Linked DNA regions of Homo sapiens. The protein of the gene in region 2 interacts with the protein of the main gene of each other region in a pairwise test. Each region holds a gene or a part of one and is shown on either strand. Other genes may lie near its edges.

Region 1 (3,500 bases), on a different chromosome or scaffold from region 2:
GAGCGATGGTGAGAGCCTCCTCGCTTTCTGCAAAGACAGGTCAGGGGTTGAGACAGGGTCCAAAAGAAGTGAGGAGGTCAGGGGCCTGTGAGGACAAGATCATGGCAGCCATCTAAGAGGTGGGGGGGCGAGGAGGGGATGAAGAGATCAAAAGGGTTGCAAACTAAGCATTTAGGGAGCCCAAAGTGGCCTGTTTGCCTAATTACGGTAATCACACCTGGTTTGAGTCACTTCCTGGAGATGGGGGTGGAGGTGGGAGATCTTCAAAGGGATTCATGAGGCCTGTTCCTGTGAGAGGGGTCCATTCACTCCACCCCCGCCCCTTTGGGGGGCCTGTTTCTTTGCCTTGGCTCAGAACTGGGAGGTGCAGATGGGGCCTCGGACTCTACAGACAGCCCAGCCTCCTGCCAGAAGAAATCTGCGGGTGAGTGGTACAGGAAGGGAGGCGCCAAGCTTGGCTGTGCCCCAAGAGGGCACCTCCCAACCCTGCACACACGCACGCATGCACGCACACACGCACAGGCACACACGTGTTTCCCATCTCAGCTTTGTTTCTGCATCTTTAACAAGGTGCCACACCCGCTCCCCATCACCCCTGTAAAACAGAAGATGAGAGGCCAGCAGGGAAGTGGGGCAGGGTGGGGGGTGGGGGGAGTGGCAGAACTTACAGTCCCTCCTGCACACACATGGGCATGTGCACACGTGCTAGGGTCTCTCTAGGTCTGAGAAACCTGCCCTAGAGGTGGTTCTGGGTCTGGGATCCTCTATGGGGTGTCAGGTCTAAGTCCTGGAGCCTTCACCAGGGGAAAGGTCCCTGACCCACACTCCCAGAGGCCAGCACACATCAGCACTTGTCTCAGTGACTGTTCCTGCTCTATGCCCTGAGCACGAACAATTTCCTTCCCCATTCTTGTCTTCTGTCCCTACCGTTGCCAATGAACCAAGACCTTGAAGATGGAGGTGTGGGGAGGAGAGCAGCCGTTAAGTGTGGACAGAAGGATGTTTTCCTGGGCACCTCTACACACAGGGCAACATCCCCTCCCCTGCCCCATGCTGGAGGGCCAGGGGCCAGGGCGATGCAAAGCCACAGAAGATCCCAAAGCCCTCTGGGGTTGGCCTCAAACTGTGATCACCCACACACCCACTTTCTGTTGGGTGGCGGCTCTAAGAGGAGCTCCACTGGATTCCTGAACAGGAGACTCACCCCCTCCCCTGGCCCTGGGCAGAGGGAGAACCTGGGCCCTGGGTCAGTGGCCCCAGCGCAGTGTCTGCCTCCCACAGGCTGCCACACCCTGTACCTGAGCTCAGTGAGCGTGGAGACCCTGACTGGAGCCCTGGCCGTGCAGAAAGCCATCTCCACCACCTTTGAGAGGGACATCCTCCCCACGCCCACCGTGGTCCACTTCAAAGTCACAGAGCAGGGCATCACTCTGACTGATGTCCAGAGGAAGTAAGGGCCTTCCCTTGCCCTGGGGCTCCGGGGCTGGCGGAGTAGAGCTGGAGGGGATAGCTGAGACAGCTGCAGATCAGGGATGAAGGTCAAGTTCAGGGTTCTGGATGACCCAGCGGGGCCAGTGATGTGCTGAGTGACTCCAGGCAGCTTCCCTGCCTCCTCCAGGCCTCACTCCACTGCCAAAGCCCCTGTTCATCATGACTGATGAAAATGGAGTTAACGGGGGCCGGGCACGGTGGCTCATGCCTGTAATCCCAGCACTTTGGGAGGCCGAGGCGGGCGGATCACCTGAGGTCAGGAGTTCGAGACCAGCCTGGTCAACATGATGAAACCCCGTCTCTACTAAAAATACAAAATTAGCCGGGCATGGTGGCACGCACCTGTAATCCCAGCTACTTGGGAGGCTGAGGCAGGAGAATTGCTTGAACCCAGGAGGCGGAGGTTGTAGTGAGCTGAGAGCACGCCATTGCACTCCAACCTGGGTGACAGAGTGAAACTCCATCTCAAAAAAGGAAGGAAGGAAGGAAGGAAATGGAGTTAACTAGTATTCATGGGTGCCGATTATGCCTGCACCCATTGATGGAACATCTTCCCTCGGCCAGACTGGCTGACCACTGGGACCCAGAGAGGAATGAGATCGTTCCTTCCCCAGGCTCGGATCTCACAGTCTAACAGGAGCCTGATCCAGGGCTGAGCACTTCACAGGGAGAAACAAGAGATGACCAAGATGTAATTCGTGTCCTCAAAAAGTTAGTGGCCAAAAAAAATTAAATGGCGTGGTAGGGGTGTGATAGAAAACCCCAGAGTGTAAGACAGAGGCAGACAAGCCCCATGAGAGGAGAGAGGCAGGAGCGGGGCGCCAGGGCCCCCCAGTGGGAAAGGCCATAGCGGTCTTCAAGGTCTAACCCAGAGACTTCTTGGAGGACAGGGCACCTGAGCTTGGGGGGAACGAGAGATGCTGGAGGCAGGATGACACTGGGACAGGCTGTCATCGCTTCCCTTCTCTCCCCGCCTCCTCCTAGGGTGTTTTTCCGGCGCCATTACCCACTCACCACCCTCCGCTTCTGTGGTATGGACCCTGAGCAACGGAAGTAAGTTCAAGGCTGGGCCAAACTAAGAAGGCTGTCCAGGGCCCCGCTGCCCACCAAGGCGTCCTGCCGACTCTGGGCCTGGGATCCCAGAGGGAGCCTGTGAACCTCAAGGGGTCAGGGTGACAGAATGAGGGTAGGGTGGGGCATGGTGGGGTGGGGACGCAGCTGGCCAGTCCTGCTGCTCCTCCAGGGTCCTGTGGCATGGAGCGAAGCCTCATTACTCGGTATCATGTTCTTTTCCTACAGGTGGCAGAAGTACTGCAAACCCTCCTGGTAAGGCCTTCCTGTCTCAGGGCCCCAAACCCAACATGGGGAGGGAACTGCAGAAGGAAAGAGGCACCATTCTGACTTTAATAGTCCAAAGTGTTGATGAGGGCACAGGCCCTGGTCCTCAGGGAGCTCCCATCTGATGGGAAAGACTTTGACTGCCCTCAGAGCCTCTGGGCTGTTGGGGGTGACATGAGCCTGGGAGCCCTCAATCTTCTGCAAGAGGCACAGGCTCTAACTTCAGGGAGCCTCAAGCTATTGGAATGTCCCAGTCTGATGATCAAGATGCATCCTTGCCCTCAGGGAGCTTCCACTCTAATGGGGAATGCACAGGTCCTGTCCTCAAGGAGCCCTCACTCAAAACAAAGGAAACCCAGAGCTTGAACTCAGAAATCTCCCAGTCTGACGGGAGAGGCATCTCCTTCCCCAGGGAGCCCCACCATAAGGAGGTGCTGGAGTCAATTGGCTAAGGGAGGGGCAGGGAGGAATGAGATGCAGGCTGAGGGCCCCCCACCACCCCATTCCCACCAGCCTGATGCCTCCCTGGGTCCCACCCCTCACTCAGACTGCCCTCCCCCACCAGGATCTTTGGGTTTGTGGCCAAGAGCCAGACAGAGCCTCAGGAGAACGTATGCCACCTCTTTGCGGAGTATGACATGGTCCAGCCAGCCTCGCAGGTCATCGGCCTG
Region 2 (3,500 bases):
TGACCTTTGATGCCCTTTGGCTCTATTCCCATGGCAACCTGCACACATGTTTCTTGCTCTTAGAGGGAAGAGGAAATCCTAGGGCTAGAATATAAAGCTACATAGAAGTTATCCTGGGAAGAAGATGGGCATACCCAGATGGTTCTCTCACCAAGAGGGTCCCAGGAGTGACAACAGGATGAGAAAGTAATCAAGGCAGAAGCCACCCTGACGTGTGTTGGGGACTCAAGAGGCCTAATATTACTGGGAGGTGGCAGGTAGAAACTGAGAGGTAGGGTGTGAGGATGAGGAAGACTGTCAGCATTGCAGAGGGCTTGGACATTAACCTCAGGAGCCGTGGACCAGCAGATCCAGTCTGTATGCCATGGGCACAAGAGCAACAGAGCTGCTGCCAGCACTATCACCCCACGCCATATCTTCAAACACACAGGAACCATGATTCTGTTCCTCACAGACTCTCTCATAATGAATAAAAATTTTATTTCAATGCACTACTGAAGTCACAGAGCTTTTAAAATATAAAGTAATAACATGTACTTCATTGAAAAAAATAAAATTGTCGCAAGGCTTATAATGATAAATAGCACTCCTCCTAAGCCTCTCCTTCCCATCCCTAATCTCCACTCCCAGGGAACATTAAACTCCTCTAGCTGTTTCTTCTGATATTTAACCTCATTTTTCTAGATAAGATGCTTATAGTTCTATTCCTTGACTTTCAACTTTGGAATTCTTTTATTCTACCCCTAAAACACAAACTCATCCCCTCCCACCTTTCCAGTACAGGTAAATCATAAGTTTTAGTTAAAGTAATACTCAGTGTGTACATAATTATATCATGTGTTACACCTGAGCCATCTAGTAGATTATACTTACATTTCCTTTCTTGTACAACTTTTTTTCCCCTGAATTCAGCAACTGCCTTGTTTTCTTTTCCATTTGCTTAATTATCTGCAAACCTATCACTATTTATCTTCAAAACTCTCCAAGGGGGCTACACACTCATCTCCTTACAAACACTTCCTGTCATATCCTGGTTTGAGCCTCTCCGAGGCTCACCACAACTGCTCCCAGGATAAGGCTCAAGCTTGAGCCTCTGCAGTTTGGTCCCAGCCTCCAGCCTCATCTTCTGGCCCCTGTGCCACAGGCCTCCCTTTCTTCAAGTGACAAGGGAGCCAGCCCCCACACCCGTATGCTGGTTTTAGCCTGTGCCTCCATCCATATGGGCCTTGTTTGCCTGAGACACTCTTTCCCCTCACTGCTTCCAGCTCTCCACTCTGCTCCCTCAGAAGCCTTGCCAGAGGGTCCTGGACCTATGGTGCTTATGCAGCTATTCGTCCTCAGGCCTTCTTCAGCTTCCTGTGTATCTCTGAGTGTTTCCAACCAGCTGCCTTGGCATTTACCAGCTGCATGGACATTACATGGCTGGATGGTAATAACAGCAGAAAAAAACCTAAGAAGGGAGACAGTCTCAGCAAATTTGGCAGCAGTTGCCTCCCAGCTCAGAATCTAAGGCCAATAAGCAAAGCCCAAGCTGAGGCCACCAACACCAACACTACCCCTTAAGACACTCACCCCACTTGCAGCCCACAAGCACAGGGCAGGCAGCATGTCTTGTTCGGTAGTCACCTTCCCCGCTCCGCAAGAGGTTGTACCAGAACACAGCTGTACCCTGGGAAAGAGATGGCCTTTCAGAACACATTCTTAAGAGACTGTGCTCAGGGACCTGACTGCAAGCATCACAGAAGCTCTGCCCTGAGCAGAAACACCCTCATTTTCCCATGGACAGGGGATAGGGCTCTGGGACTCCAGCAACAGAGACATTTCCCAGAAAGCACCTACCTTTCTGAGGTAGAAGTCTGGGAACTCACCCGCCCCTGAAGGGACTTCCCTCCCTGTCCTTTCTTCACAGGGAGAAGCTGGGCTACCAGGTCAGACCCCAGGTGGGCTAAGGCACATCACAGTGACAATCAGGCAGGCCAGGTAATGGTACTGGGGGACATGGACAAAGTAAAGTCTGAGCCTTGCTTCAACCTCTGACCCACAAGAATCAGAACTTACCTTCTTAGGCCAAATTGCAGCCCCCAGATCAGGGAAGACGGTGGCACCACCAGCTTCTACATCACTCATCTGGAAATATAAGACATAGAGCTTGACCCTCCTACCCAAGGCTCTCAGAGCAATTGAGCCACAAAGGACATGACAAGGTATATAGATTGCCCTCCTCTCAGCATGAGTGACACTACTTGGTGTCTGCTCCATGGCCAGCCCTTTAGCCAAGAAAGGCTCTTCCCATGCCTACTTAACCAGTGTGATTCATTAGAACAGTCTCCATGTCATGAGTGTTCAAGAGTTGAGGCCCACAGGAGACCCACATCCGGGCTGTCCCTGGATGAAAATAATCTGAGTCTGTACTCAGAAAATGCCTGTTCTGACCCCACCCTTTGAATCCCCATCTAGCCTTGGCCTTGCCTAAGCCACTGTACTCTGCAAAGTGCCCTGACCAGGAGCTCTGTACTGTTTCCAACACCATGTGCAGTCCCCACTGCAGCTCTGTTTCTCTGGCTCTAGTAGTTTGCTGCTCTAGTCAGACCTTCACCTTCCCAGAGTAGCCACCCTTCCTGGGGCCAACTGAGTGGAAGGGTGGGGCACTGTGTCTCTAGAGGCCCTGCTTTCTCCTATGGTAAGGCCTTAAACTACATTGAACACAAGTTCCACACTAGCAAGGCTGTACTCATGCCCACAGAGCATGCCTTGACTCATGGCCAAAGCACTACTTCTTTCCCATCTGGCTCTCTTACTTTTTTTGTCCATAATTTAATAAAAATTGGAGGTAAAAAATATTTCCACAGGACACATACCAGACTCACTGAAGGGTACTTGACAGACATATGGTAAATGAATAAGACAAAAGCTCTGATGGCTTCTCACAGCCCTGTGGATCAAACTCAGATTCTTTTCTAGAACCCCAAGGCCCTGTCAGTCTCACTAGCCTCTCTCCAGACACACCAGCCTTTTTCTACCTTTCCAACATCCCAAGTTCCTTTTCTCTTACAGGACTACATACACTCTCTCTTCTGCCAGAAACCATGTTCTACCAGCTAATTTCCACTCAACTTTTAAGTCTCAACTGATATGTTACTTCCAAAGAGAGGCCTCCACTGAACCCCAAGCCTGGGGTTCACAGCACCTGTCTCCATAACTACATAATAATCTCTCTGATGTTTAGGCTGGGCATGGTGGCTCACGCCTGTAATGCCAGCACTTTGGGAGGCCAAGGCGGGTGGATCACTTGAGGTCAGGAGCTTGAGACCAGTCTGGCCAAGATGGTGAAACCTCATCTCTACTAAAAATACAAAAATTAGCTGGGCATGGTGGTGCACGCCTATAATCCCAGCTACTTGGGAGGCTGAGGCAGGAGAATCGCTTGAACCTGGGAGGCAGAGTTTGCAGTAAGCTGAGATAGCGCCACTGCACTCCAGCCTGGGCAACAGAGGGAGAGT
Region 3 (3,500 bases), on a different chromosome or scaffold from region 2:
TTCTTTGCTCATAGGATTATTTTGAAGACCAAGTAAGATGATGAAAGTGAAAGCACTCTGTAAAGTATAAACCGCTATGCAAGAATAGTTCCACAGATAATTACTGAGTAATTTCTTTGCATCAGTGCCGTGAAAAACTCTGAGGATTTGAAATTTGGCTAGGAAGGTATTCCAAAATAATTTCTATTATTTTTCATTAAATCTTAATATTTTCAGAGGATTAGCACATTTGAGGAATTGTAAGACACCCAAGGCTTTGATAGATGAATAATAAAAAATAAATAAGAATATGATGAAATTAGTTTCTGTAGAAATCACCTTAAAATAGAACTTCTTCAGGTCAAATATCTAGAAAACCCCATCATCTCAGCCCAAAATCTCCTTAAGCTGATAGGCAACTTCAGCAAAGTCTCAGGATACAAAATCAATGTGCAAAAATCACTAGCATTCTTATACACCAATAACAGACAAACAGAGAGCCAAATCATGAGTGAACTCCCATTCACAATTGCCTCAAAGAAAATAAAATACTTACAAGGGATGTGAAGGACCTCTTCAAGGAGAACTACAAACCACTGCTCAATGAAATAAAAGAGTATACAAACAAATGGAAGAACATTCCATGCTCATGGGTAGGAGGAATCAATATCGTGAAAATGGCCATACTGCCCAAGGTAATTTATAGATTCAATGCCATCCCCATCAAGCTACCAATGACTTTTTTCACTGAATTGGAAAAAAAACTACTTTAAAGTTCATATGGAAGCAAACAAGAGCGTGCATTGCCAACTCAATCCTAAGCCTAAAGAACAAAGCTGGAGGCATCAGACTACCTGACTTCAAACTATACTACAAGGCTGCAGCAACCAAAACAGCATGGTACTGGTACCAAAACAGAGATATAGACCAATGGAACAGAACAGAGCCCTCAGAAATAATGCCACATATCTACAACTATCTGATCTTTGACAAACCTGACAAAAACAAGAAATGGGGAAAGGATTCCATATTTAATAAATGGTGCTGGGAAAACTGGCTAGCCATATGTAGAAAGCTGAAACTGGATCCCTTCCTTACACCTTACACAAAAATTAATTCAAGATGGATGAAAGACTTACATGTTAGACCTAAAACCATAAAAACCCTAGAAGAAAACCTAGGCAATACCATTCAGGACATAGGCATGGGCAAGGACTTCATGTCTAAAACATCAAAAGCATGGCAACAAAAGCCAAAATTGACAAATGGGATCTAATTAAACTAAAGAGCTCCTGCACTGCAAAAGAAACTACCATCAGAGTGAACAGGCAACCTACAGAATAGGAGAAAATTTTTGCAATCTACTCATCTGACAAAGGGCTAATATCCAGAATCTACAATGAACTCAAACAAATTTACAAGAAAAAAAACAAACAACCCCATCAAAAAGTGGGCAAAGGATATGAACAGACACTTCTCAAAAGAAGACATTTATGCAGCCAAAAAACACATGAAAATATGCTCATCATCACTGGCCATCAGAGAAATGCAAATCAAAACCACAATGAGATACCATCTCACACCAGTTAGAATGGCGATCATTAAAAAGTCAGGAAACAACAGGTGCTGGAGAGGATGTGGAGAAATAGGAACACTTTTACACTGTTGGTGGGACTGTAAACTAGTTCAACTATTGTGGAAGTCAGTGTGGTGATTCCTCAGGGATCTAGAACTAGAAATACCATTTGACCCAGCCATCTCATTACTGGATATATACCCAAAGGATTATAAATCATGCTGCTATAAAGACACATGCACACGTATGTTTATTGCGGCACTATTCACAATAACAAAGACTCGGAACCAACCTAAATGTCCAACAATGATAGACTGGATGAAGAAAATGTGGCAGATATACATCATGGAATACTATGCAGCCATAAAAAATGATGAGTTCATGTCCTTTGTAGGGACATGGATGAAGCTGGAAACCATCATTCTCAGCAAGCTATCGCAAGGACAATAAACCAAACACCGCATGTTCTCACTCATAGGTGGGAATTGAAGAATGAGAACACATGGACGCAGGAAGGGGAACATCACACACTGGGGCCTGTGGTGGGTTGGGGGGAGGGGGGAGGGATAGCATTAGGAGGTATACCTAATGCTAAATGATGAGTTAATGGGTGCAGCACACCAACATGTCACATGTATACATATGTAACAAACCTGCACGTTGTGCACATGTACCCTAAAACTTAAAGTATAATAATAATTAAAAAAGAAGACAAAAAAGGGACAAAGGCCAAGAATCTAAGGAAGGTTTGTTTAAATATAAAATAAACTCATAATAATAATGCTAAGAATGATGATAATAGCCACTACCATTTACTTTGTATTTAATAATTACTAGTCACCATGATATGCATTTTTATGTACTGAATCTCATTTCTCACCACAAATTCGAGCAGTAGATATTTTTATTCCATTTTATAAAGGATAAACAGAGGTTCTGAGGAGTTAAATAACTTGTCTAAAACCATATTGCTAGGAAGTAACTGATTTCAAACCCACACTATCCATGTCTCAACGACTGGATGGCGTGGTATAGTGAAAACAGCATGTATCAGAAGTAGGAGTTTGGGATGGGGACTGTGTGGAGGTGTCCTGTGTAAAGAGTCCAGACAGATAAAGCTGATCGGGAGATCCCTAGACTTGCCCATGAGTGAGGACGTCCTGATATATATATATATATAAATTTCTACAGGTAACCATGGGGCAGACTGGCTTTCCAGGTGCCTGCCAAGGCATCAGACCACCCATAGCTCAGCAAATCCAGCTTTTGAAATTACACAGCTCTGACTTAGTGCTCAACAAGCTACTGCCCAATATCAATTTAGTTTCCTGTGTACATTTGTCTCCTGGGAGGGAATATGCCAATCATCTGAACTTATAATTTGAGTACACTTGAACAAAATCACCAAAGATGGATACATAGGTCAAAGTACCAGAGTGAACTGACCTCTTGAGCTCCATCAACTCTGTGTGCCTTGGATACAATTAGCTTTCTGGGTCTTCAAAACTGATGGTGAAATGTGGTCCTTAGGCAGTCCACAAAAATTCAGCCCTCTCAGAGTTTGGGCCTAGGCTATTAGTCAGCCCTTATCTTTATCTTACACGAAATTGAACACAGAACCTACCACTGTTAAAGATTATCATCCAATCACATGGATATTAAATTTTCATGTTGTATCTAGACCTTTTGGCTCATCTTAGTTCAAATGACAAACCACAGTACCATTTAAACACAATAGGATTTTGATTCTCATGCATAAGTGTTTAGGAAGCAGTGTTTCAATTAGTATCACCAATGAAATTTAAAAGAAACAACTAAAATACATATTTTGCTAATGCTTGTGGTGTATCTGGGAGTTCCTTAAATGCTGTTGACTAGTTTGGAAGACAGTGATTGATGCCCTGATCATGAACCTGGGAACATCAGCAGGGTACTCATGGAGCAC

Evidence for each region. Proteins that work in one complex are often made in the same cells at the same time.
Region 1: the proteins of P4HA2 (region 2) and TNS4 interact in a two-hybrid assay, tested with the Homo sapiens proteins (one large-scale study listed by BioGRID and IntAct).
Region 3: the proteins of P4HA2 (region 2) and CLNK interact in a two-hybrid assay, tested with the Homo sapiens proteins (one large-scale study listed by BioGRID and IntAct).

Annotation. Positions count from the first base shown.
Region 1 is NC_000017.11:40,477,624-40,481,123, reverse strand, and holds part of TNS4 (tensin-4 precursor), read left to right. Parts: intron 1-355; coding exon 356-424; intron 425-945; coding exon of another isoform or gene 946-1,281; coding exon 1,282-1,450; intron 1,451-2,475; coding exon 2,476-2,544; intron 2,545-2,790; coding exon 2,791-2,817; intron 2,818-3,394; coding exon 3,395-3,500. UniProt on the Homo sapiens protein: Promotes EGF-induced cell migration by displacing tensin TNS3 from the cytoplasmic tail of integrin ITGB1 which results in dissociation of TNS3 from focal adhesions, disassembly of actin stress fibers and initiation of cell migration.
Region 2 is NC_000005.10:132,193,354-132,196,853, forward strand, and holds part of P4HA2 (prolyl 4-hydroxylase subunit alpha-2 isoform 2 precursor), read right to left. Parts: intron 2,128-3,500; coding exon 2,059-2,127; intron 1,670-2,058; coding exon 1,573-1,669; intron 1-1,572. UniProt on the Homo sapiens protein: Catalyzes the post-translational formation of 4-hydroxyproline in -Xaa-Pro-Gly- sequences in collagens and other proteins.
Region 3 is NC_000004.12:10,678,269-10,681,768, forward strand, and holds part of CLNK (cytokine-dependent hematopoietic cell linker), read right to left. Parts: intron 1-3,500. UniProt on the Homo sapiens protein: An adapter protein which plays a role in the regulation of immunoreceptor signaling, including PLC-gamma-mediated B-cell antigen receptor (BCR) signaling and FC-epsilon R1-mediated mast cell degranulation.